7 linked regions of the Homo sapiens genome follow. The protein of the gene in region 7 purifies or fractionates together with the protein of the main gene of each other region. This does not show direct contact. Each region holds a gene or a part of one and is shown on either strand. Other genes may lie near its edges. The genes, in order: RNF138, NEK3, EBF3, SUPT5H, TXLNG, NOC2L and CPNE2.

The links.
Region 1: the proteins of CPNE2 (region 7) and RNF138 purify together in Homo sapiens (affinity purification with mass spectrometry; one large-scale study listed by BioGRID and IntAct). This does not show direct contact.
Region 2: the proteins of CPNE2 (region 7) and NEK3 purify together in Homo sapiens (affinity purification with mass spectrometry; 2 studies listed by BioGRID and IntAct, with this or other methods). This does not show direct contact.
Region 3: the proteins of CPNE2 (region 7) and EBF3 purify together in Homo sapiens (affinity purification with mass spectrometry; 2 studies listed by BioGRID and IntAct, with this or other methods). This does not show direct contact.
Region 4: the proteins of CPNE2 (region 7) and SUPT5H purify together in Homo sapiens (co-immunoprecipitation; 2 studies listed by BioGRID and IntAct, with this or other methods). This does not show direct contact.
Region 5: the proteins of CPNE2 (region 7) and TXLNG purify together in Homo sapiens (affinity purification with mass spectrometry; 2 studies listed by BioGRID and IntAct, with this or other methods). This does not show direct contact.
Region 6: the proteins of CPNE2 (region 7) and NOC2L purify together in Homo sapiens (affinity purification with mass spectrometry; 2 studies listed by BioGRID and IntAct, with this or other methods). This does not show direct contact.

The regions. Positions count from the first base shown.
Region 1 is NC_000018.10:32,122,874-32,126,373, forward strand, and holds part of RNF138 (E3 ubiquitin-protein ligase RNF138), read left to right. Parts: intron 1-644; coding exon 645-701; intron 702-1,860; coding exon 1,861-1,972; intron 1,973-3,500. UniProt on the Homo sapiens protein: E3 ubiquitin-protein ligase involved in DNA damage response by promoting DNA resection and homologous recombination.
Region 2 is NC_000013.11:52,146,098-52,149,597, reverse strand, and holds part of NEK3 (serine/threonine-protein kinase Nek3), read left to right. Parts: intron 1-1,128; coding exon 1,129-1,183; intron 1,184-3,500.
Region 3 is NC_000010.11:129,835,275-129,838,774, reverse strand, and holds part of EBF3 (transcription factor COE3), read left to right. Parts: intron 1-814; coding exon 815-832; coding exon of another isoform or gene 833-846; 3' UTR 847-3,500. UniProt on the Homo sapiens protein: Transcriptional activator. Recognizes variations of the palindromic sequence 5'-ATTCCCNNGGGAATT-3'.
Region 4 is NC_000019.10:39,452,082-39,455,581, forward strand, and holds part of SUPT5H (transcription elongation factor SPT5), read left to right. Parts: intron 1-1,274; coding exon 1,275-1,440; intron 1,441-3,500. UniProt on the Homo sapiens protein: Component of the DRB sensitivity-inducing factor complex (DSIF complex), which regulates mRNA processing and transcription elongation by RNA polymerase II.
Region 5 is NC_000023.11:16,817,466-16,820,965, reverse strand, and holds part of TXLNG (gamma-taxilin), read right to left. Parts: intron 2,393-3,500; coding exon 2,089-2,392; intron 803-2,088; coding exon 711-802; intron 1-710. UniProt on the Homo sapiens protein: May be involved in intracellular vesicle traffic. Inhibits ATF4-mediated transcription, possibly by dimerizing with ATF4 to form inactive dimers that cannot bind DNA. May be involved in regulating bone mass density through an ATF4-dependent pathway.
Region 6 is NC_000001.11:943,703-946,479, forward strand, and holds the end of NOC2L (nucleolar complex protein 2 homolog), read right to left. Parts: coding exon 2,700-2,777; intron 2,585-2,699; coding exon 2,471-2,584; intron 1,952-2,470; coding exon 1,816-1,951; intron 1,445-1,815; coding exon 1,355-1,444; intron 1,099-1,354; coding exon 992-1,098; 3' UTR 501-991; downstream 1-500. Other genes in the region: SAMD11 (sterile alpha motif domain-containing protein 11), read left to right, coding at 1-106, 206-451.
Region 7 is NC_000016.10:57,113,083-57,116,582, forward strand, and holds part of CPNE2 (copine-2), read left to right. Parts: intron 1-205; coding exon 206-385; intron 386-2,393; coding exon 2,394-2,468; intron 2,469-3,500.

The sequences.
Region 1 (3,500 bases), on a different chromosome or scaffold from region 7:
TCTGTAGCACACAGGTGACGGTCCCTGTATGGAATACTTACTCTTCCCTCAGGATTCCTCTGATATTCCATGTGACACATGACTCTCTGGCATATGGTAAAAGTGGAGATGTTAAGTTGTTCTGTATATTAAATGTTAGTGAAGCCTGGTTTCTTTCCTTTCTGGAAATAAAATACAAACATAATGAACATTTACATATTTTCTTAAATTACTGCACTTTGGAGGGCATAACCTTATACCATGTCCTAGTTTGAAGTAAAAAAGTTCACAAATTCTTGAGTCTACCGTAGCATTTAAAACCTTACTAGTCTAGGTAAAGGTAGAGGAATGGGATTTAAGGTAATTCTGCAAAATTCTCTATACTTCTGTAACTGTGCATAAGTTAATTTTAAAGAACATAAATAAGAATCTAGTAAGCAGTCAATTTATTTAAAAGTAATTAATATTGTAATTATTTCATAGTTCAGAACCATTTGAAGTTCAAATTTTGTTTTTTCAAGGACCCAATAGGAAAAAGGTGTATTGAAGTTCAGACTTTTAAAACAAATTCAGACTAGTCTTCTTCATTAATGGTTCAAGATAATGAACCTTTAGTGTGTTTTCATTACTTTGAGGTATTAACTTTTTCCCCTGTGCTTCTTAAGCAATAGGAGTGAAACATCCACATCTGATAACACAGAAACTTACCAAGAGAATACAAGGTAAGCTTTTGAAAAATCCTGCCACTTTAGCAAGTAATATTATATTTATCACTTATCAAATAGCTTTTTAAATTAAACTTTTTTTTTTTTTTTTTGAGACGGAGTCTCACTTTGTTTTCCCAGGCTGGAGTGCAGTGGTGCGATCTTGGCTCACTGCAACCTGCGCCTCTCAGGTTCAAGTGATTCTCCTGCCTCAGCCTCCCAAGTATCTGGTATTACAGGTGCCTGCCACCACGCCCGGCTAATTTTTGTATTTTTAGTAGAAACAGGGTTTCACCATGTTGGCCAGGCTGGTCTCGAACTCCTGACCTCAGATAATCCACCTGCCTTGGCCTCCCAAAGTGCTGGGATTACAGGCATGAGCCACTGCGCCTGGCCATAAATTAAACTTAAAAAAAAAAAAAAAATCAGTTACATCATTAGGCATAGTGTTTGAAGTTAGCAGTTTAGAAATAGAAAATGCAGTTACTGCTTTTAAGAATCACATTAGGTTAGAAGAGTTTAGTTATTCTCTTTCACTGTGGTCAGGTTTCTTCCACACACGATTCAGGTAAAGTTGTCTGTGTTGAACTGTCCCTTCCTGAAATTCAGAAGTATTAAAACTCAGTGATGCTTGATCCTCAGAATGTTTTCGAGTATTTCATTCTCATGATCAGTGCTTTTGTTTTTTCTTTTCCTTTGAATTTTGGATGTTGGATTCCTAGGGCCTGGTATTTATTAGAGATACGATATTGATGGAAGTCTTTTAGAAGTTTTAAGTTCCTAGATAAAAGGTTTGCAAAATGTGGAATACTACAGAATATTAAAAATTTTCAAGGGACATACAGTGACAGCTATTGGCATCAGAAAACAACTACAATTAAGTTTGGACCTAACTACATAATATATGGAGTCAGCTAGGTTTTTGTTTTTGTTTTTGTTTTGGCCTAGAGGTGCCATGAAAAAATTTATTGAGGACACTAAGAGTACTGTAAACTGAGATTGGGAACCTCTGTAATGCATCATTTCCTGAATACATATGTTCAAAATGAGAGAATCTTTGAATAGTCTAATAATTATAACTTTTTTAAAAAATGTATAGTGATTCCTCAAAAAATAGGAGAGCGTTATTTTTGTGTTATTCTGAATTAAGTATGTTTCACTTAAAATTGTTTTATAGTTCTTCTGGTCATCCTACTTTTAAGTGTCCCCTGTGTCAAGAATCAAATTTTACCAGACAGCGTTTACTGGATCACTGTAACAGTAATCACCTATTTCAGATAGTTCCTGTGGTAAGTACATACGTTTGAGACAGTCTTCTGCTTAGAATAAAACATGCTGTTCTATTTATTTCACTTCATGTATGCAAGAGAAAGTAGTTGATTTATATTTGGTTGGGGCATTATCAGTAAGGTAGATTTTTGTCAACAAAGGATTGATGACTGTGAAGCAAAATGAGATATTTAAAATTGCAGTAACTCTCATTATAAAAAGGGAGATGCATAGTGTGAGGTAATATAGCACAGTCTGGAGAAGAGTGAAGTAATGAAAGATGAACCGGGAACTCATTCCTGCGCAGTAGCACAACCTGTCTATTGAGGCCTCAGTTACTTGCTCTGTAGATGGCAGACAAGTAGATCTAGTCAGGTAGATTGCTGTAGGTGAAAATACCTGTAAGTAAGAATAAAGTCAGTAGGTATTTTTATTGTTTTCTTGCAGCATATAGTATGTGAATGCATAAAGCAAGGAAGGAAAAGACTTAGACTTTGTATTTGATGCCTACATATTTTTTGACATTTTGAGGGTATGTAAGAAAATGGTGAGAGCTTTTTGATAATGAGGGAGATAGAGCAGAATTCAGGATTCCAACATATAATGATCCTAGAAGTGTTTCATAGGTAAGTTATTTCAGCTGTGAATGGAACAGGAGAAACTGAGCTGGGAGAGAGATTTCCCTTTCAGCTGAACATTTTGATATATAAATAATTGTCTTCAGAAAGGAGAATAGGAAGGAAAATGTTATCAATAAGAACTGTAGATATTTCTAAGCTGTTTTAGTGAGTATGCTAGGAAAAGTTGTGAAAGAATGTGCTTCAGGACCGGGCACGGTGGCTCATGCCTGTAATTTAGCACTTTGGGAGGCCGAGAGGGGAGGATTGCTTGAGCCCAGGAGTTCGAGACTAGCCTGGGCAACATAGTGAGACCCTGTCTATTTAAAAATAAAGAAAATAAAAAGAATATGCTTCAATAACCATTGAGGATGACCTTAAGCTCTCACATACCACCTAAGAAGGTGTACTACCTACTTTGCTTATTAGAATGGGTTCAGTTATGCTTAAATAGACAAATACAGTGCCAAAGATGTTCCAGGAAATCTCGCTCATATTTAAGATTTTACTTAGTTTTATATTGGATTACCAAATTTTTATTCATTTCTGCATAATATTCGATATATCATAAACTTTGGCTAGAGTTTAATTACTGAAGGTTTTTTGTGTGTTATTTCAGTTATTTATCCATTCAGTTTTTAAGATGTACTTCATTTAAACGTAAGGATATGGCTGGGTGTGGTGGCACATGCCTTTAATCCCAGCACTTTGGGAGGCCAAGGCGGGAGGATTGCTTGAGCTCAGGAATTTGAGACCCAGCCTGGACAACAGTGAGACTGTGTCTCTAGTTTTAAGAAAAGAAAAGAAAAACTAAGGATACAATTTAAAGTAAATTTTCCAGTTTACTTCATTTTTATTTTACTTACAAATGAAATAAAACTAATAATAATTATATGGTTATTGTATGGATCAAATGAGATAATATATTGGA
Region 2 (3,500 bases), on a different chromosome or scaffold from region 7:
ATGCCCGGCGGGCAACCTTTTTTCAGGAGATTCAGATAGATATAGAGGAGGGAGATTAGCACGCAAACATGGCCAATGAGAATGATTGGGGGACCTAGATAAGGGCATGTGGACATTGCAACTTTTCTGTAGATTTGAAATTTAAAAAAACTAAACGGGGAAATAGTTGGTAAAAACCATTAATTAAAATAAAAAAGAATATCATTTAGAAAAGTCTGGAGGAGCTGGGCCTGGTGGTGTGTGCTTGTAGTCCCAACTACCTGGGAGGCTGAGGCAGGAGGATTGCTTGAGCCCAGGAGTTCAAGGCAGCAGTACAGTGACATCATGCCTGTGAATAGCCACTGCACTCCAGCCTAGGCAACACAGTGAGACCCCATCCCTTAAAAAAAAGAAAAGGTGGGCTGGGCGCGGTGGCTCACACCTGTAATCCCAGCACTTTGGGAGGCTGAGGCGCGCGGATCACGAGGTCAGGAGATTGAGACCATCCTGGCTAACACGGTGAAACCCTGTCTCTACTAAAACAAATACAAAAAAAAAAATTAGCTGGGCGTGGTGGCGGGCGCCTGTAGTCCCAGCTACTCTGGAGGCTGAGGCAGGAGAATGGTGTGAATCCGGGAGGCAGAGCTTGCAGTGAGCCGAGATTGTGAGGCTGCACTACAGCCTGGGCAACAGAGCAAGACTCCATCTCAAAGAAAAGGAAGAACCCTATCCCTTAGAGCCATCCAGCAGACTGTGTGGGAAGTAGAGAGCTGCCAGCAGGAGATGTGATCAAAGGCTGGGTGCTGTGTCCAGGGTGGTCGGAATAGAAACTACACTGGATGCCTTCCAGAGTCCTTCTTCCAGCTGTGATCATCTGAGTCCGCAAATATTCCCTCTTGCTACTGAATTCCCAAATGCTACTGAAGTGATATCTCAACTGCCCCAATTTGAAGGGGGTGGGGATTGAAAAGCAGAGAGTTTTATTGTGAACACTACTCTTAGGAAGTATCTAGGTGTTAGACCAACATTATATGTTTTAATACCTAGGAATTACTTGTGATATCTATTCTTATTAAAGGTAAGAAATTATTTTTTGTACTAGAAAATACGTAACCTGCTTGTGATTACATTGCTTCTTTATGCTTTCAGTGACATCTGGTCCTTGGGTTGCATCCTGTATGAACTCTGTACCCTTAAGCATCCAGTAAGTATGGCGTGCAAAATGGAAAAGGCAGCTTGTCATATCTAGCTGAGCCCTAATAATGTGACAGATTCTAGTTGGCAGTTTGCTTCCCTAGGATGAAGTCATTATAAAAGTTTGTATATGTTTCCAGTGCAGTCATCTGCCCTGAGTTAGTTTTGTAGCATATACTAATAGGAAATTTCCATTATTCAGTTTGGCTGTGCAATACATAACCTTTCTCTCTCTTTCTTTCTCTTTTCCTCTTTTCTTTCTTTTTGCTATTCTTAATTTTTTATTTTGATAAAATAAATATAAAATTTGCCATTTTATCCATTTTTAAGTATACAATTCATTGTCATTAATTACATTCAAAATATTGTGCAACCACCACTATTATCTCTTTGGGGGTTTTTTGTTTTGTTTTGTTTTGTTTCGTTTTTGAGATGGAATCTTGCTCTGTTGCCCAGTCTGGAGTGCAGTGGTGCAATCTCAGCTCACTGCAACCTCCGCCTCCTGGGTTCAAGTGATTCTCCTGCCTCAGCCTCCCAAGTAGCTGGGACTACAGGTGCATACCACCATGCCCAGCTAAATTTTTTTTGTATTTTTACTAGAGACATTTTTTTTGTATTTTTTTGTATTTTCCCCCATGTTGAGCAGGCTGGTCTTGAACTCCTGACCTCAGGTGATCCACTCGCCTCGGCCTCCCAAAGTGCTGGGATTACAGGCATGAGCCACTATGCCCGGCCACTACTATCTCTTTGTAAAACTTTTGTCATCACCCCAACCAGAAACTCTGTACCCATTAAATAGTTGCTCCCCATTTCTTCCCTTTCCCCAGTCCCAATCTAATTTCTGCCTCATGAATTTGCATATTCTAGGTATTTCATACAACTGGAATTATAGAACTTTTGCCCTTTTGTGTCTGGTTTATTTCACTAGCACAGTGTTTTCAAGGTTCATCCATGTTGTAGCATCTATCAGGATTCCATTCCTTTTTATGGCTGCATAGTATTCCATTGTGTGTATAGACATGTTTATCCATTCATCTGTTGAGGGACACTTGGGTCGTTTCTGTCTTTTGGCTATTGTATATAATGCTGTTATGAACAAATGGTGTACAAGTATCTGTTAGAGTCCTTGATTCCAAATTTTGAGGTTTACATTTAGCAGTGGAACTGCTGGGTCATATGGTAATTGTATTTAGCTTTTTGAGGAAACAGCAAACTTTGCAAGAGTGGCCGCGTCATTTTTTTCCTCAGCTTTTTGCAGTTAGATTTCACTTATATGAGTTTCCTCTCTAACTGAAACATCATGAAAACATAGACTTTGCCCTATAATGTGTTTTTTCAAGATATTTTTAAAAATATGAACAAAAAAAGGTTAAATAACTTGTCCCGCTTGTTCAGCCATTGTTTATTATATAGAACAACAACTGCAGGGCCAATTCCTATTAGTTCTTAGCTTTGCATAGAAATAAATTCTGTTCTTTGGGCACAGGCTGAAGGTTAGCTTTTTTACAGATGTACTTGAGGGCACATAGAGCTCAGGAGAGGGTGAATGGTTGAGAAACAATCTTCACCACTACCAGATGAAAGTAGCTCAAACTGAAGACACCTGGTATTAATGAGAGGTTATCTTCCTTGAATATAAGTGGTTTATAATGATAGCTACACAGTTAGAACAACTTGGGGAACCTTTAAAATGCTGATGCCTAGGCCCACAGCACAGTGATTGAATTAAAATCTCTGAAAATGTCCTGGGCATTAATGTTTTTAAAACAGGTGATTACAATGTACAGCCCAAGTTGAGAACCACCATAGTCTACAAATAAAATTATTTTTAAAATTCCAACATCTTACAATTCTTTACTTCCTGATGTATCTTTTTCATAATTTACATGTATACGTTCTTCTTTTTTCCAGCAAGAATGAGTATTAAGGACTATAGTGCCCTGAATATTTGGCATGAGATCTGTCATCCCTTGTCTGCTCGAAGACAAAAGTTGTTCTCAAACCTTTAGGAAACACAGATAGTTGGTGTAATGGTTAAAAAGCCAGAGGCAAAGCAGATTCAGTAGTATTTGTCATTATCACAATCTGTCCTTTGTTATGTGTTGATTTTTCTTTTTCATATATTCACTTACATTTTATATTCATAGGACAATACACTTTTTAAAAAATAAACTTCTTTTAAATTTTAAAACAGTTTTAGATTTACAGAAAAATTACAAAGATAATACAAAAAGCTTCTATATACCCCACACTGTAATTAACATCTATCATAGCCTTGAGGTGTAGAATCATTTCTTAAGCAAGATTCGACAAGCAGAAATTATTAA
Region 3 (3,500 bases), on a different chromosome or scaffold from region 7:
GAACAAATGTATTAATATGTTATACATAAATTAATGAGAACGATCATTCTGACAAAAATTAAACAACACCAGCGGTAAAAGATTTTAAATTACATTCGTACCAGGAGTTCATGTGAAAGCGTCAGCCCCACTTGGCGTTTTCGTGCAAAGTTTTCTCTTCTTTCCTGAGAAGAGAAAAAAGGTCCCGAGGCGGTGCCATGACTCACGTCTCTCCGTGGCCCTTGCCTGGAGGTTCCAGGGCAGGTGGGCTGTGAGTGGCTTTGATTCTGGAGAGCCCCTGACTCACCATTACGATACAGAGAGATGACCGCACGGTCAGAGCCCAGACCTGGAAGCAGAGGGGGAAACTGAGGCCAGTCTGGTTCTCACATAGGGAGCGAGAGCAGGGCCTGTGAGCCGGCCTTGACTGGCGTCACGGGAGTGACCAGGCTGGGTCACCTCTCTCGACAGAGGGGGCTCCGGGCCTCCGTTGGCTTTGCACCTGTTGGCAGTGCACCGGTCAGTGTGGGGAAGCTGCAGCCTCTGCACACAGCAGTGCCAGGAGCCCTTCCCTTTTCCAAAAGAAGCCTTTAAAGAAGCCTTTGAGGAGGGCTGCAGGAGGGGCAGGACTGGGGGTTGTTGTCCCCACGTGTGCCCCCACCTCAGGAAGCAGATTCCCCAGCACGCCCTAACCACGCCCGAGGCTGGTGGACGGAACTGTGCAAGACCAGCCTCCCAGTTGAATAGGGGGGAAGGGCAGCCCCGCCCGCGTCAGCGTTGGCGGGAGGGCGCGTGGGGGAGCCTGCAGTAACTGCTCTGTCCTTCTGTCTTGCAGCTATGTCTGGGCTGGTAGTCCCGCCAATGTGAGGGACTTCTGTTTACCTTCCGCAGCACCCAGCATCAAAGGACGGACTTCAGGGGACACGTTTAGTATATTAAGACATGCTGATGGAAACAGTATCTTCAAAAAAATCAGCAGCAATTGAAATGCTACAAAAGACTTTGTTTAAAGATTTTATTTAAACTATTAAGAATCAACATGCAAACAGCCTACTTCTTCATGAACAATTCCATTTTATTGACTGAACTTTTCTCATATTTTCACATTTCTCAGTCCTGAAGAATAAGGAAAACAAAGCGACGCCTATTTTGTATAAAGTTTCCGACTCCGTCTTGGCCATGTCTAGTAATTGCTATGTGTTGGGAGAAACTTTGTGAATGCACCATTTTGATGATCATGAAACGCTGATGAAAAATGCCTCCAAACATTTTTCTGTACTCATACTTAGATTCACAATGGTTGTGTATCTCTATAATGTGAAATATTTTTTTGTGGTGATAAAAAGAGGGCCAAGGAGGTATGAGCCATCAGACTGGAAAAAAGGATGACTATATGATGAGGAGAAACTGGGGTGGCAGGGAGGGAGGGAGGGTTTATCACTGCTTAACTTCATCTTCATGAAATGAAACTTTGTAACTTATTGTAGTTAGAAATTGTAACTTTGATATTGAATTCTCTTGCCTTCAACAAGCACACTGACAGAGAAAAAATGCTACTGTCTGTTGGTTCCAATATTCTCCCACTGCTAGAGCTTCCTGTTAAGCAAGTGTGATCTGCAACATTTTTTCAACTTTTGCTAGCACTGTATACTATTGCATTCTTAGGCTACTGTGAGGTCTATGTTTCTTGTACCAGAAATTGTCCTTTTGACTTCTAGATCCTTCTTCCCTAATGTGTTTTGTATGTGGTTATAAAATTGTAGACTTTTGTGATTTTGCCAAAGTTGTAGCTAAATATTTATACACTTGTCTTGAATTTTTTTCAGATCCACTTAAAATATTTAGAAAAACAAGTTTTATTCCTTATGTGTCTTATAAGGAATAAAATGGTCTTCATTTGACACTTACTTTCCCATGAACACTTGCAGTTGCTAAGGGACTTTATTTTGTAACATATCAATTATAAATATTGTATTTATCTTTGAAATTTTGTACATTGCTTTTCCCACCTTTTCCTTTTTCTTCTTTCTTGTCTGTATTGGTTTTTGATCACGGCCTGGTGTTGTGATACTGGGAAGAGCATTAGCCAAGAACTTGTCTCTTTGATCTGTTTCGTTAAGCTGAACCAGTGTCTTTACATTTCATTTGTACTTCAAAAAATATGCTATTGTTTAGACTTTCCATCCTTTTTTTTTTTATTTTGAGGAAAAGTCAAATTCATTGTTTATTTTTATATTATTTTTAAGTTATCTGAACAAATACTTTTGAAAAAAAAGTTTGTTGTATAGTCAAAACAAATCGGTGCCACCCGGCCGTGACAAATCCTAGTAGATTCTGTGCATGTGGAGCGGCCGCGAAGAGGTGACACCGTTTGGGGCTGTGTCCTTATTTTATTTTATTTTTTTGTAGAATGTAAAAAGTCATTTTAGATGCCACCCATTGACTTTGCCACATAGCTGAACTGTGTTTACTGGAAAAATTCAGAGGCCTAAAGTTTAAAATAAAATTTACTTCTGATGTTTTAATTAAAATGTTTGCCACATTAACTTTTCTGATGCCTTAAAAGTGAACTTCTTTAAAGAACCTTTGTGCTATTTTATCACAGGCTTACACTACAATTGTTAATAAATACTTCATTTGGAGATGTATGGTGTAAAACACACAAACACACACAAAAAAGCACAAGCCCGCTGCATGACCCGTCTCTCCTTTCTGGGACTATTTCTGCTGCGTCCTGCACCCTCCTGGGCCCACCTCCGATTCACAGAGGTTTCAGGGGGACCCAAATCACTGCTGGTTTTCAATTTTTTTTTAACAATACATTTTTGTGGTCAGTTCCAACAGCACTGTCCGTACTTTTAAAACTGGAATGACCTCCTTCAGATATCGTGCCTCTTAGTGCCAAACCCACAGTGAGACCAAAAGTGTCAGGTGTTTTTTTTTTTTTCTTTCTCCTTTGCACTAAGTGCTTTGCAGACACGGCACAGCAAACATTTTGCAAACTGCAGCAGAAATCGAATTTAAAACAAAAAGGAGGGACTTTAAAATACCTTCTTGACAAAAATCAACAATGCACAACTTACAAAGTGTTCATTCTAGGGACAAAATTAAATAAACAGAATGTCCCCAGGAGTCAGCAGGTCACAGTCTGGCTTTGTGATGGTTGACAAGGTCTAGCTACATGGGAAAGCCTGAGAAGTCACTTTGGAACTAAATTGCCTCCATTTTATTTTGTACGAGTAAGGGTTTGATCTACAAAAGAGCTCACATGGACGCACTGAGAACGCCTGCCAGCTTCCCCATGCCCTCACTTGGTTTGTGTTTTAGGTTAAGTAGTCAATGCCCACATCACTTCACTGTCTCAAGACTGAGCACTTCACTAAATGGTAGATTTTACTGTTAAAGACCCTACAATAAGATTGTTTTATCTGTACATTTTTTCAGATATTTAACTGTATAAAAATGTTCATTTTACACAATATTTAATTAAAGTATTTCTTGTCTGTGAATTTCACTTTTGG
Region 4 (3,500 bases), on a different chromosome or scaffold from region 7:
GGGTTGGAGAAATGATGTTTACAGGCAGAAAGGATGAGGATTTGGTGCCTGTCGGTAATTGGAGGAGGCCATCACAGGTCTAGGGGAAGACACTGAGGTCAGTTTGGGACACAGTGAGTATGAAAGGGCTCAGAGGCCATCTAGGGGAGGCATCCAGGATGCTGCTGGTGCATGGAGGTCTTGAGTTCTGGAAAAAAGTGGGACTCTATAGACAGATGAGGACACGTGTCATCTCTAGAGACAGGAACTGAGGTCATGGAAAGTAAAATGGACAGGGAGAGAGGGCATGGAGGGAGAACAAAGTGGCCCTGGACTGAGCCCTGGTAATTGATGTCAGATTTGAAGGGGTTAACAGTAAGAGGAGCTTGAAGAGGAGCTGGTGGAGTTTTGAGAAAAACCAGGAGAGCATGATACGGCAGAAGCCAAGAGAGGAGCATTTCTCCAGGGAGGGCATGGTTGGGGTGCCAGATGCTGCTGGGATGGTAGGGAATACAGAATGGCCACAGAATTAGCAACAGGGGTGGCCAGTGATCTTCGTGAGCAGTGTGGACTAGAAACAGAGATGGGAGTCACTGTCACAGAGATGTCCACCACCGCCAAGGGAGAGGACGAGATGGCCTTGGGGAGTTGTAGAATGGGAAGAGATGGGCCAGGTGCTGTGGCTCACACCTGTAATCCCAGCATTTTCGGAGGCAGAGGCGGATGGATCACCTGAGGTCAAGAGTTCGAGACCAGCCTGGCCAACATGGTGAAGCCACGTGTCTACTAAAAAAATACAAAAATTAGCCAGGTGTGGTGGCGCACACCTGTAATCTCAGCTACTCAGGAGGCTGAGGCAAGAGAATTGCTTGAACCCAGGAGGTGGAGGTTGCAGTGAGCCAAGATTCTGCCATGGCACTCTAGCCTGGGAGACAGAGTGGGACTCTGTCTCAAAAAAAAAAAAAAAAAGAGAGAGAAAGAAATGAGGCCCAAGGACCAAGCTTCATCAAGCTATTATAGTTAAAGACTCGGTGGAAAGTGAGCAAGAGGTCTAGTGCAGGGAGAAGCCCGGGTCAACTCCCAGGGTTGCTTGGGTGGCTGGGGAGATGGCAGTGCTGTCGCTGAGATAGGATGGTAACCAGAGAGGCCAGGCTAGAGTGAAAGGGATATATGCAGAGCAAAGTGGGCTATGATTGGCCAGGCCAATCTGAGGTCAGATTTAGGGTGAGGAACTTGGTTTTTGGATTTTTGGGGTAGCAGAATTCTGGTGCTACAACCCTGCCTGACCCCTGTAGGTAGACGAAGAGCGGCGGAGTGCAGCGGGCAGTGAGAAAGAAGAAGAGCCTGAGGACGAAGAGGAGGAGGAAGAGGAGGAGGAATACGATGAGGAAGAGGAGGAAGAAGATGATGACCGACCCCCCAAGAAACCCCGCCATGGAGGCTTCATTCTGGACGAGGCTGGTATGTCATAGTGCTTGGCCAGTGCCGAGCAGAGGCTGAGCTTCTACTTTTAGTTCCATTTCTTTTTCTTTTTTTGAGGCGGAGTCTCGCTCTGTCGCCCAGGCTGGAGTGCAGTAGCATGAACTTGGCTCACTGCAAGTTCATGCCATTCTCCTGCCTCAGCCTCCTGAATAGCTGGGACTACAGGCGCCCGCCACCACGCCCGGCTAATTTTTTCTATTTTTTAGTGGAGACGGGGTTTCACCTTGTTAGCCAGGGTGGTCTCAATCTCCTGACCTCGTGATCTGCCCGCCTTGGCCTCCCAAAATGCTGGGATTACAGGCGTGAAGGACCAAAGTTCTTAACTTTTCTCGTGCTACGGCCCCTTCTGTAGTCTGGTGAAACCCTGTTCCCTTCTCAGAATCATCTTCTGAAATGCATAAAACAAAATACATAGGATTCCAAAGAGGACAATTTATTGAAGTACAGTTATCAGAATATTTAAAAAGAACATTTTGGTGCATATGTTTCTTTGTTAACATATTTAGGTAATAAGACTTTGTAGGTAGTCTGAGAATCTAATTTTCAAGTAGCAGTGAGTGTAAATGCTGCCTTGAGATACCTATAGCTGTAATGTGCTGTGAAAGAGCCAGTGACACAGCTAACATTGTGTGGTTTGTTGCCATTGTATGTAATTGATGTAAATGCTAAATTTCAATTCCAGGTTACTGAAAATAGGAGCTGTAGTTTTTTCATCGAACACAGACCACCCCAGATGAAAAATCTCTGTTCTACGTGTTAAATCCCTGTTAGTCAAATTGCTAGGTAAAGGTGGTGCATTTTGTTGTTGTCGTTGTTTTTTTTTTTTTTTTTGAGACGGAGTCTCGCTCAGGCTGGAGTGCAGTGGTGCGATGGCTCACTGCAACCTCTCCCTCCTGGGTTCAACTGTTTCTCCTGCCTCAGCCTCCTGAGTAGCTGGGACTACGGGCACGTGCCACCATGCCTGGCTAATTTTTTATATTTTTAGTAGAGACAGGGTTTCACTGTGTTAGGATGGTCTCGAACTCCTGACCTTGTGATCCGCCCGCCCTGGCCTCCCAAAGTGCTGAGATTACGGGCGTGAGCCACCATGCCTGGCCGCACTTTTTTTAAAAAAAGATTTTTTATATTTACGGCCAAATATCAGTTCCTAAAAAGATAAGACTAGTTCATACTTCCATGATGATAATGAATGTGCATGTTTTCCCTTACCTATGGGAAGAGGGGTTACTTAGAACACATCCTGCCTCTGTTTTCCTGGGACTGTTTTACCTGAGAAGAAAAGTAGTTTATTGTCAAAGGGACAGGAGGTGCTCTGGATGTTCTTGGAGAGCAAGAGAATGGATACCATGCTGGGTAAAAGCTGTGGGTTCCCAGGGACACCCATATGTTGGTGGTGGAAGTGTTGGTGGGCACTGCCTGTGTGGAAGGCTGTGTGGCAGTGCCTGTTAGCATTTAACATGCAGGAACCCTTTGACCAAGCAGTTCCTCTTTAGAATTTACTTTATGGTTAAACTTGCATGAGTGCATGAAGACCTGAGAACAAAGATGCTTGTTGTAGTCCTGTTCGCAGTTGCAAAAGTTTGGTGACCTAAATGTTTATTGATGATTAGGGCCTGGTTAAACAAATTATGGGCCATATAGTATATGAGGCATGTGCTGCTGTGGGAGAGCTCTGAGTTAGTAGTAGTTTTGAGAAAAAGAAAGGTACAGAACGGTGTGTTAAAAAAATTACGTGGGGGCTGGGCGTGGTGGCTCATGCTTGTAATCCCAGCACTTTAGGAGGCTGAGGCGGGTGGATCATCTGAGGTTAGGAGTTCGAGACCAGCCTGGCCAAGATGGCGAAACCCTGTCTCTACTAAAAATACAAAAATTAGCTGGGCGTGGTGGCGGGCGCCTGTAATCCCAGCTACTTGGGAGGCTGAGGCAGGAGAATTGCTTGAACCCGGGAGGTGGAGGTTGCAGTGAGCCGAGATTGCTGCACTCTAGCTTGGGTGACAGAGCAAGACTCGGTCTAAACAAAAAAAATTACATGGGGGGAA
Region 5 (3,500 bases), on a different chromosome or scaffold from region 7:
AACCCCATCTCTACTAAAAAATTAAAAAAACTAGCCAGGCGTGGTGGCGAGCACATGTAGTCCCAGCTACTCAGGAGGTTGAGGCAGGAGAATGGCGTGAACCCGGGAGGTGGAGCTTGCAGTCTGCTGAGATCACACCACTGCACTCTAGCCTGGACCACAGGCGAGACTCCGTCTCAAAAAAATAAAATAAAATAATATAGCTGAGAACAAACTCTTTGATAAGGTCACTGTTTCTAGAAAATGGAAAAAAGGATGCTTGACACATAGTAGATGCTAAAGAAGTATTTCTGAGACAAAGTATTGTTTTAGCAGATGATTTCATGTAACTCACAATCTCAATCAAAACAGTCCTCAATCTCTAGAATTCCCTTAGGAAAAGTTTAAGACAGGAACCACTACACCCCAACTGAGTGGCACCTAAGGCATCACAACATAGCAATGGAAAGGCTGACTTAGACTCTAAAACTGAGTTTTAGAAAATCTATGCCACATCTTAGTATTACAATGTTCCCTATATATTACCTCATAAAATGAAACTATACAACCAATAAAAAGCCCCAACAAAACAGATTCTCTTCTTCAATTTCAGAATAAAATATAATTTTACATTTAAGGCCATATCAAATTTGTACTTTAAGAAACTTATCAAGCACACACACATTTTGTTATATTTTATATGGCTCTCACATCCTTGGCTTAATACTCACAAGATCAGCATATTTCTTACAGAGAGCTGCCAGCTTCTCCTCTGGGGTTGAAAGGGTGTTTAGGGCTTGCATCAGTAATAAAACTTCTTTTCCTGATGGTTAACAAGAAAAGAAATAAGTCCCAGAAGAATGAGATCAAATCTAACCTGTAAATTCTACTAACAATTCCCGTGCTCTGACATCCAGAGTAAACTAATTTACACCTATGATTATAAATAAGAGATTTACCAGCTCAATGAAAAAGGCAATTTTTAAATTCTGGATTAGCAGGCCTCGCTCCCCTCCCCATACCCACCCCAAATTTCTTAACTCATTCACTAACACTGCGAGCTATTTATAAGAACTCTTGTTAAAAGCTTATAAATTTCCTTGCCTAATCACTGATGTCCAAGTTAAGACAAAGGGCAAGTTACAAAGGGCATGGAATTTTTTTTAAAGCTTCCTCCTAACCAAGTTCGAATATAGAAGCAAGTTCAAAGGGAGTTTCAGTTGGTACTACACTTTGCCAAAGACACACATAATCACAGGAGAACATATCTTTTCCTACGAACAATTTAAAAACGTGTGCTTTTCTTATGATTTACTAAGTATATTCTGTGTGTTAACTAAGGTTAACTAACCAAAGGATGACAAGATAGCTCTTCCTGTGGGGAAAGACCTTAGCAATACTGTAAGGACTTTGGCAGAGAGAGGCAGGTGGCTGAGATTAGGAGGGGACTAATGGCATTTCGAAGTAAGGGGTAATCTTTTATTTCTTAAGCTAGGTGATAGGTACCATTTTTATTTTTTTAATGTTCATTCTTATATGTAAGATATTGCATCAAAATATATATCTCAAAATAACTCTGACATACAGACTGCTATGGGGGAAAAAGGGTGACTTCAAAAAAGAATGCTTTTCTACTCACATAAAATTTTATTAATGAAATCTTCTCTCATTTAACCCAAGGCCAATAAGACCTTTAAGAGACGATTAAACACAATTACTGAAAATGATCAGAAATAACTGCAATGTGGCCGGGCACAGTGGCTCACACCTGAAATCTCAGCACTTTGGGAGGCCGAGGCAGGAGAGGACTGCTTGAGCTTAGGAGTTTGAGACCAGCCTGGGCAACACAGTGAGAACCTGTCTCTACAAAAAAAATTTTTTAATTAGCCAATTCTTGATTATTTGGAAAAAAAAAAAACTAAGCGTCCTCTCTGCTGTTTTCGCCTCCTGCACATAACTGCAGCAGACACATGGACTGACCTCACCGAAGACACTAGGGGTGTTGGCTAAGCACCTCTAAAGTGGCTGTGTTCAAAATTATCTGGGCTGCAGAAAACACAAGTAAAATGATTAGCATGTGAAACGTCCAACCACTGAACGGATTATTACCTAAAGTTTTTTCTTTGTTCCTGTTGCACTCTGAATCTTGCTGACCATCAGGGGGATCTGTTCGAGCTTCTCCCCCAGGGATTTCCTCTCTTGATTCTTGCGTGCAGTATGCTGGGCTCACCAAATTCCTGTTCTCTGTTATAAAGTCACTGCCTTCATCCTCTTCCAATGAATGCTTGTTACTTGTGCCACCACAATTTGAGCCTTGATGTTGAAGAATATCATTTGATTGAGAGTTACACAACATATCTGCTTTCACCCCTAGCCCACAAATTCCAGCTTCTTCCATTGTGCCAATTTCAAACTAGAAGAAAGGAGAAGGAGAAAAAAGATGGAGAAGGGGTTAAATCTAATGTAATCAATGTTTACAAGCAATGGAACATCATAGCCTGATAGTTTTTTCTTCCTTAGTGGTTTGCAAAATTGATGTAAATATGGTACTTTCTAGGTTTCACTGAGAGGTGACCTAACTATAAAGTATAAGGAAATTAGTTAAAATGAATCACACAACTATTCAGTACCAAAGGAGGCAAGAAACCCATTTAGTTATAAATCTAAATTGATTTCCACATAAAAATTCACCACTTAACATAATTAGCACCTTAACAGAAGTGAAACTGTCCCCAGTTAATGAATATTAATTATTCTAATCTTATCCTCAAGGAGACAGTACAGCAGGGATGGCTAGCTAGCTATCCATCAAAACCCCATGCTCCCCCAAGTTCCTGTGGAGTTGGCACTATGAGACAAGTGCCCAGCCAGGGACTATTCCCCAGCCCCCTTACACCAAGGGGCGACTTCCACGTGAAGTTCCCACCAACTGAATGTGGGCATAGGACACGACTGTCCAAGACTTTTATTCTTAGAAGCACAAGTTCTTTCTCAACCATCTCTCCCCGACTCTGGCAAAATGCAGACATCTCCAAGACCCTAAGGGATGGCAGAGCCACAGGATTAATGAAGCCTAGGCCTCCATATCCTATGTACATACAGGAAAGCCACCCTACTTACAAAGAAAACCTACACTGGACTATAGGTGAACAAGAAATAAACTTCTCTCATGCTAAGCCATGGAAATTTTGAGACTGATATTTTAAGCAGCTATCCCTGCCCTAATACACATGGTAAAGATGCCTTTATTCCAGTATGTTATTCTTATGTCAGTAACTGTCTTCTATCACATTGTTAACCCTATTTGAGTTTTTTCCCCTTGTGAACACTTCCTGGTCATGATGTGGCACAAATTTAAATTCTGTGCATTTACTCTCTGTATGAAAGAGGGCCTCTTCCTTTTCTGAATAATACTGTTGAGGTGAGGAGGTGTTTAGTATCCTTCTCTTATCACAAATGGACAAAAGCTACTTTCAAAATTTATGGGAGAGCAGATATTTGAGATTTTAGGTTATAATCAT
Region 6 (2,777 bases), on a different chromosome or scaffold from region 7:
CAGGGAGCAGGGGATCGACGGGGAGACCCTGCCACTGCTGACGGAGGAGCACCTGCTGACCAACATGGGGCTGAAGCTGGGGCCCGCCCTCAAGATCCGGGCCCAGGTGAGACGCTGGGGAGTGAGGTCAGGGTCTCCAGACCACAGCTGGGCAGAAAGCTCTGGGTGGGTGTGCGACAGCCCCCACCAGGCCATCTCTCTGCAGGTGGCCAGGCGCCTGGGCCGAGTTTTCTACGTGGCCAGCTTCCCCGTGGCTCTGCCACTGCAGCCACCAACCCTGCGGGCCCCGGAGCGAGAACTCGGCACAGGAGAGCAGCCCTTGTCCCCCACGACGGCCACGTCCCCCTATGGAGGGGGCCACGCCCTTGCCGGTCAAACTTCACCCAAGCAGGAGAATGGGACCTTGGCTCTACTTCCAGGGGCCCCCGACCCTTCCCAGCCTCTGTGTTGAGGTTGCCGGGGGTAGGGGTGGGGCCACACAAATCTCCAGGAGCCACCACTCAACACAATGGCCCTGCCTCCCACCGCTTTATTTCTTTCGGTTTCGGATGCAAAACAAAAAATTTTAAAAGAAAATGTGACTTCAAAGGAAAGGAACAAATTTTCAAAGACTTGGGGGAGTGAAGGCAGAGCCTGGTGCAGATGGACGAGGTCTGCAGACGGAGGGCAGAGGTGGTGGAAGGGGCCAGGGGCCTGCAGGCCTCCCCCTGGAACTGGGACTGGTCTCGGTCTGCTGACGTCAGGGTCAGCTCCCCCGCGGAGCTGACTTCAGCAGCCCACAGCTGTGGGGCTTCAGCAGCCACACCAGCCCAGCCCAGCCCAGCTCTCGATACGTTTGGTCTTTCATGCTGAAAAATAAATAATAAAGCCTGTCCCGTGTCTACTGCCTCCCCCAACTGCACAGACGCCAGCCTCTAGGCCTGACTGCCAGGGAGGTGGAAACACTGGCCACCAGCCCGGCAGCCCCTACAGGCCCCCCAGATGGGCTGCCTCAGTCGTCCTCTGAGAGCTGCAGATCCTCCAGCTCGTCCTCCGGCCCCTGGGCCAGCTGCTGCAGCTCCCCAGGGGCCAGCCCCGCCTCTGCGTCTGGGTCTCCATCTGCGGGGAGAGATGGAGGCTACATAAATTTTGCTTTATCAGGAAGAAGCCAGCCTTAGAGGTTACTCATCACTAATTAATCACGGCACTAATTAATTTATCCCTGTTGCTGGCTGCCAGAGAACAGAGCATTTGGCCTGGCCTTCCCAGGGAGGGAAAAGCCTGGCCCAGAGCCCCACGCCCCCCGCCCACGTGGCTCTGCCCTCCCGCCAGATGGGCTCACAGGGCCACACCCTCTCACCCCAAGACCATTCACCCTCCGAGTTGCTGCTGTCCTCCTCGCCCTCCTCCTCGTCCTCTTCATCGTCTTCCACCCCATGCCGAGTGCTCAGGGGCCTCAGTATCCCTGAGGAACAAGAAGCAGAGTCCATATGACTCCCACCCACAGGGTCCACCAGCAAAGTCACAGTGGGGGCAGGAGGGTGGCCAGGCTCCCAACACCCTTCCCTCCGCTGACTTCCAGCAGGTGGAGAGGAGCCCTGGGGAGGAACTGGGAGGTCACAGGCCTGGGGACAGAGTTACCAATCCCAGTAGGCCTTCACTTCAAGGAGGGAAGGCGCTGGCACCAGAAGCCTGGCAACACTGAGGTTGGCCCCAGCTGGGCCAGAGACTGGTGAGCCCCCTGCAGGATGGGTACAGGTGGCCCTCGTGGCTCTGGGAAGTCCAGCAGAGCCCTCCAGGCCCACCCTTCCCCTGGGAGCACCACGCAGGCCCCACCTCTCTCCGAGAATCCCTCGGTGTCGTCCTCTTCAGAGCTGTTCAGGTCAAAGAGGTCTTTAAATTGCTTCCTGTCCTCATCCTTCCTGTCAGCCATCTTCCTTCGTTTGATCTCAGGGAAGTTCAGGTCTTCCAGCTGGAAGGCCAAAGAACCAGGGGCTCAGGTGAGAGAGGGCAGGGGCTGGCGGCCACAGCAGGGCCAGGCATCGCCAGACCCACCACCAGGGCCCCATGTGGCCAATTTCTAGTCCCCTCTGTTCCCAAATCACAAAGCCATCCTCCAAGTTGTCCATCCCATGTCCAAGGTCAAAGGCAGAGCCCTTCCTGCTTCTCCTCACGGGCCCCTGGTGCCCACATACTGGCCTGGGTGACGAGGTCAGTCCAGCCACTCCACCTGCCCGGAGCCTCCAGCCCATCAGGCCTGAGGGGGCATGGCCTCCCCAACCTAGTGCAGCCTGGGGCTTCCCCTCCCTGGAAACGCCTGGTTCTGGCCAGTTCTCCAACACCTACCCCCTCTCCAAGTCGAATCATCCGGGCACGGCCCTGGCCGCCTGGCACTGTTTCCAAACCCTCGCCCTGGTCTCAAGTCATAGTGCGCTAGATCTGAAACCCAGGAAGTCACAACACACCCCCAGGTCCCCTCGCCGAGCCGCACCCGCTCTTTGCCACTGATCTCCAGCTGGATCTCCCGGTCACGCAGCTTGCGCCAGTGGCTGTAGTACAAGGTCAGGGGTGTCCCCTCTTCCCGGGTCAGCTTCTCCCAGGCTTCCTGGGGGGTTGGGGGAGTTCAGGGTCATGCCTCACCCTGGGCAAACCCCCACATGTAGCTGGGGCTATACCCTGGCAGGTGCCCTCAGGTGGCACTACCCCCAGGGCCCACTAACCACTGCCTGCTGCTCAGAGACGCCGAAGGAAACCCTCTGGCGGCGGCTGCAGATGTATGCCGAGTTCTCCTGAACCTT
Region 7 (3,500 bases):
CTGTCCAGCCCTGGGGAAGTCACTTAACCTCTCTGTGCTTCAGTGTCCTTGTCTGTGAGCTGGGGATAGTGAGTCACTGACGATGACCACAAGAGCCTGGCACAGAGTAGGCATTGTACAAGTTAGCAGAATGATTTCCAGCAGCCTGCGAGGTCTTGGACCAGCTGCCTTGACTCTGACTTCCATTTTCCTGCCCCTCTGCTAGTACGACAGGACAGAAACCGCGATCAACAACCTCAACCCCGCCTTCTCCAAGAAGTTCGTGCTTGACTACCACTTCGAGGAGGTACAGAAGCTCAAGTTCGCGCTCTTTGACCAGGACAAGTCCAGTATGCGGCTGGACGAGCATGACTTCCTGGGCCAGTTCTCCTGCAGCCTGGGCACGGTGAGCTGGGCCCTCCTGGGTGGGAGCAGGGGCCCAAAGACCGGGCAACCCCTCAAAAAGTCTCTTCTCGTGCTGTCTTTCCCTAGCCCCATCTTCCTGGGTGGGTCCCAAAGTGCAGATGCAGAGTGGGGAACAGTCTTGGCGGGTTCAAGGCCGGGCTGAAGAGCTCCCATCTGGAGAGGCAGCCAAACAGAATGCCTCTCAGGATCTGGGGCCCCAGGTGGCCAGGGATTCCGATTGTTAGATATAATCAGGTGTGGTCTTGACCTCTGGGGGTAGGAGCATCTGACCAGCAACCAAGACACCCACAGTAGTCCCGCTTTGTGGCAGACTCACTGTGTGACCTTGAGAAACTTCCTTTCCCTCTCTGGGCCACACTTCCCCATCCATCTCAGTCCTTGGTAAGCTCCTGGAGGCCGGGAGCAAGCGGGGCTAGGCGCCCCTGACACAAGTCTCAATCATTCCTTATGGCTGTATGCCCTTGGATAAGCTCCCATCCCCCTCTGGGCCTCAGTTTCCCCACATTTTCCTTGGGGATTATGATGACTGCTCTGCCCAGCCTACATGGTTGATAAGGGAATGAAATGGAAAATGCTTTGAGGGGTCCTAGTGGAGACTGAAATGCCCGGGGCCTTCCAGGAGATGGTGACCATGCAGAAAGCAAGGGACTGCCATGGTTGTGATGTCTACTTTTTGCGTAAGAAGCAGGGTACAGTAGTCAGGGTCCCTACCCTGTGGTATAACTGAGAAGAGAGCTTAAGGGCTTGTGGACAGGGCAGGGAACTGACAAGGGATGGGGAAACCAGTCCAGGGCTTGGCCCCAGAGGAAAGCTGACCACCTTCACCTGGAAGGAAGGCAGGGTGAGGAAGTGGCATTGCCAGGGCCTGGTAAGACCTGTGGCCCATAGAGGGAGGCCTCTGGACTGCAACTGAGGCAGAAGACAGAGTAATGGAGAAGCTCCCATCAAACGGGGGCCCCCACCTCTCACGCCACCTGCTCTCCCGTCTCCTGCCCATCCCCCCAACTGGCTGAACCTCTGAAAGCCAGAGGGCAAAAGAGCCAGGTGGCACAGTCCCCAGGGCACAGAGCAGGTGTGTGGATCTGCGGAGAAGAACTAGCCCCACAGGAGCAGGACTAGATCATACTGATGTGTGCTCCCCGCTGCACAGGACGACGCTCGCACTGCACCCAGGAAGCACGAACCATGCTGGCCCCTGAGTGCAGTGGGCAGACACAGGTGGGAGGGTGACTTTGCAATGTGGCCCACTTTTCCTCTCTATGTTGTTTTGATTATTGCACCCTGTGTAAGTGTATTACCTATTGAAACCAATAAAAATAGAAAGAATTGGCCGGGCTCTATAGCTCATGCCTGTAATCCCAGCACTTTGGGAGGCCAAGGCGGGAAGATCGCTTGAGCCTGGAGTTCGAGACCAGCCTGAGCAACATAATGAGCCCTTGTCTCTACCAAAAAAAAAAAAAAAAAAAAAAAAAAGCCAGGCGTGGTGATGCATGCCTGTAGTCCCAGCTACCCAGGAGGCTGAGGTGGGAGGATCGCTTGAGCCCAGGAGGTTGAGGCTGCAGTGAGCCGTGATCGAGACCTGTCTCAAAAGGAAAATACATAGAATCTGAGCTTGACTCTGTCCATCAGAGATCATATCCTGAGGCAGGTGGGGTCTGTGGAATGCCTCTGGAGGAGGGAGTTAGGGGGCTAACCTCCCACAGTTGTCTCCAAAATGCCTTTTCCTAGGGGCAAACCAGGCAGTGGGAGTCCAACTGCAGCGGGAGACCTCAGGCGGGTCTCTTACCCTCTCTGGGCCTCAGGCTCCTCACTGCCCAGATTGGCTGCTGTCCACCTCCCAGGGTGATGATGATGCTCAGGCGGGTCACCAGCCAGCCAGGGCGGGGTGCAGCCCTGCCAAGAGGATTTTTCCGGTGCCGGTGGAGGATTTTTCCTTCCCGGGCTTCCCCCGCTTCCTCACTGAGCGCCCTTTCTCCTCTCTCCCCTAGATCGTCTCCAGCAAGAAGATCACTAGGCCTCTGCTGCTGCTGAATGACAAGCCTGCGGGGAAGGGCTTGATTACGGTACCAGTCCCCTCCCGGCTCTCCGCACCCCCTCCATCCCCACCCCACACCCTCCCCCATCAATGGGCCGCTTCCCTGGCAGATAATCACCAGCTTTGTTTGGAGTAAAAAGGCCCAACTTACAACTTAGCAACAGGTCTCTTAGCAACCGGCTGCTGGCTCCACAAATGATGCAGTGGGGGCTGACAAGCTGGGGAGGCCTCCAGAGCCCTGCCAGCAGCCCCCTCCCTGCACTGGCCCCTGCCTGCCCTCCCCTGGGGGTCGTTCAGAAGTGCCCTGCCCATCAGTGCCCTGCTTGTGGCTGCGACGCGCAATGATTCCTGCAATGCGCAACGACTCCCGCGATGCGCAGTAATTCCGCTGGAGATGCACAGGCCCTTCGCCCGGATGAGCTCCTTGGTCTTCAAAGACTCCCAGAAGCCAGGGCCACCCCTGAGACCCAGAGAGGAAGTTCCCTGGGGCAGCTGAGCTAGCGAGATCGTCCCCTGGTTGTCTGGCTGGCTTCTGAGCCCACGCGATGCCTGGGAAGCCGGCCAGGCTGGAGGGAGAAGCCATGCCTTTGTGTGTTCCCGTGTGTTACTCCCCTGTCCTGGAACCTCACATGGCTCCCCACTGCCTGACCAACCCTTCGGTTCAAGGCTGTGAAGGACCCCTCAGACCCTGCCTGGCTCTCCTGCCTTGGTGTTTTTTTAATCTCCTTCACTTAAATGCCCTGCGTTCAAAGCAAACTGAATTCTTAGCATATCCTGAACATACCTCAGGCTCTTACTCTGTTCCTGCCCCCACGGATCACCACCTCCCAAACAACCTCCCCCAACCTCTTGGTTCCTAACTGGCCCATCTAAATGCCTTCCCAGGCCAGGTGCATGGCTTGCACCTGTAGCACTACTCCTTGGAAGGCTAAGGCAGGAGGATCCCTTAAGGCCAGGAGTTTGAGGCTGCAGTGGGTTATGATCATGCTACTGCCCTCCAGCCTGGGCAAGAGAGTGAAACCCCATCTCTGAATGAATGAATGAATGAATGCCTTCACAA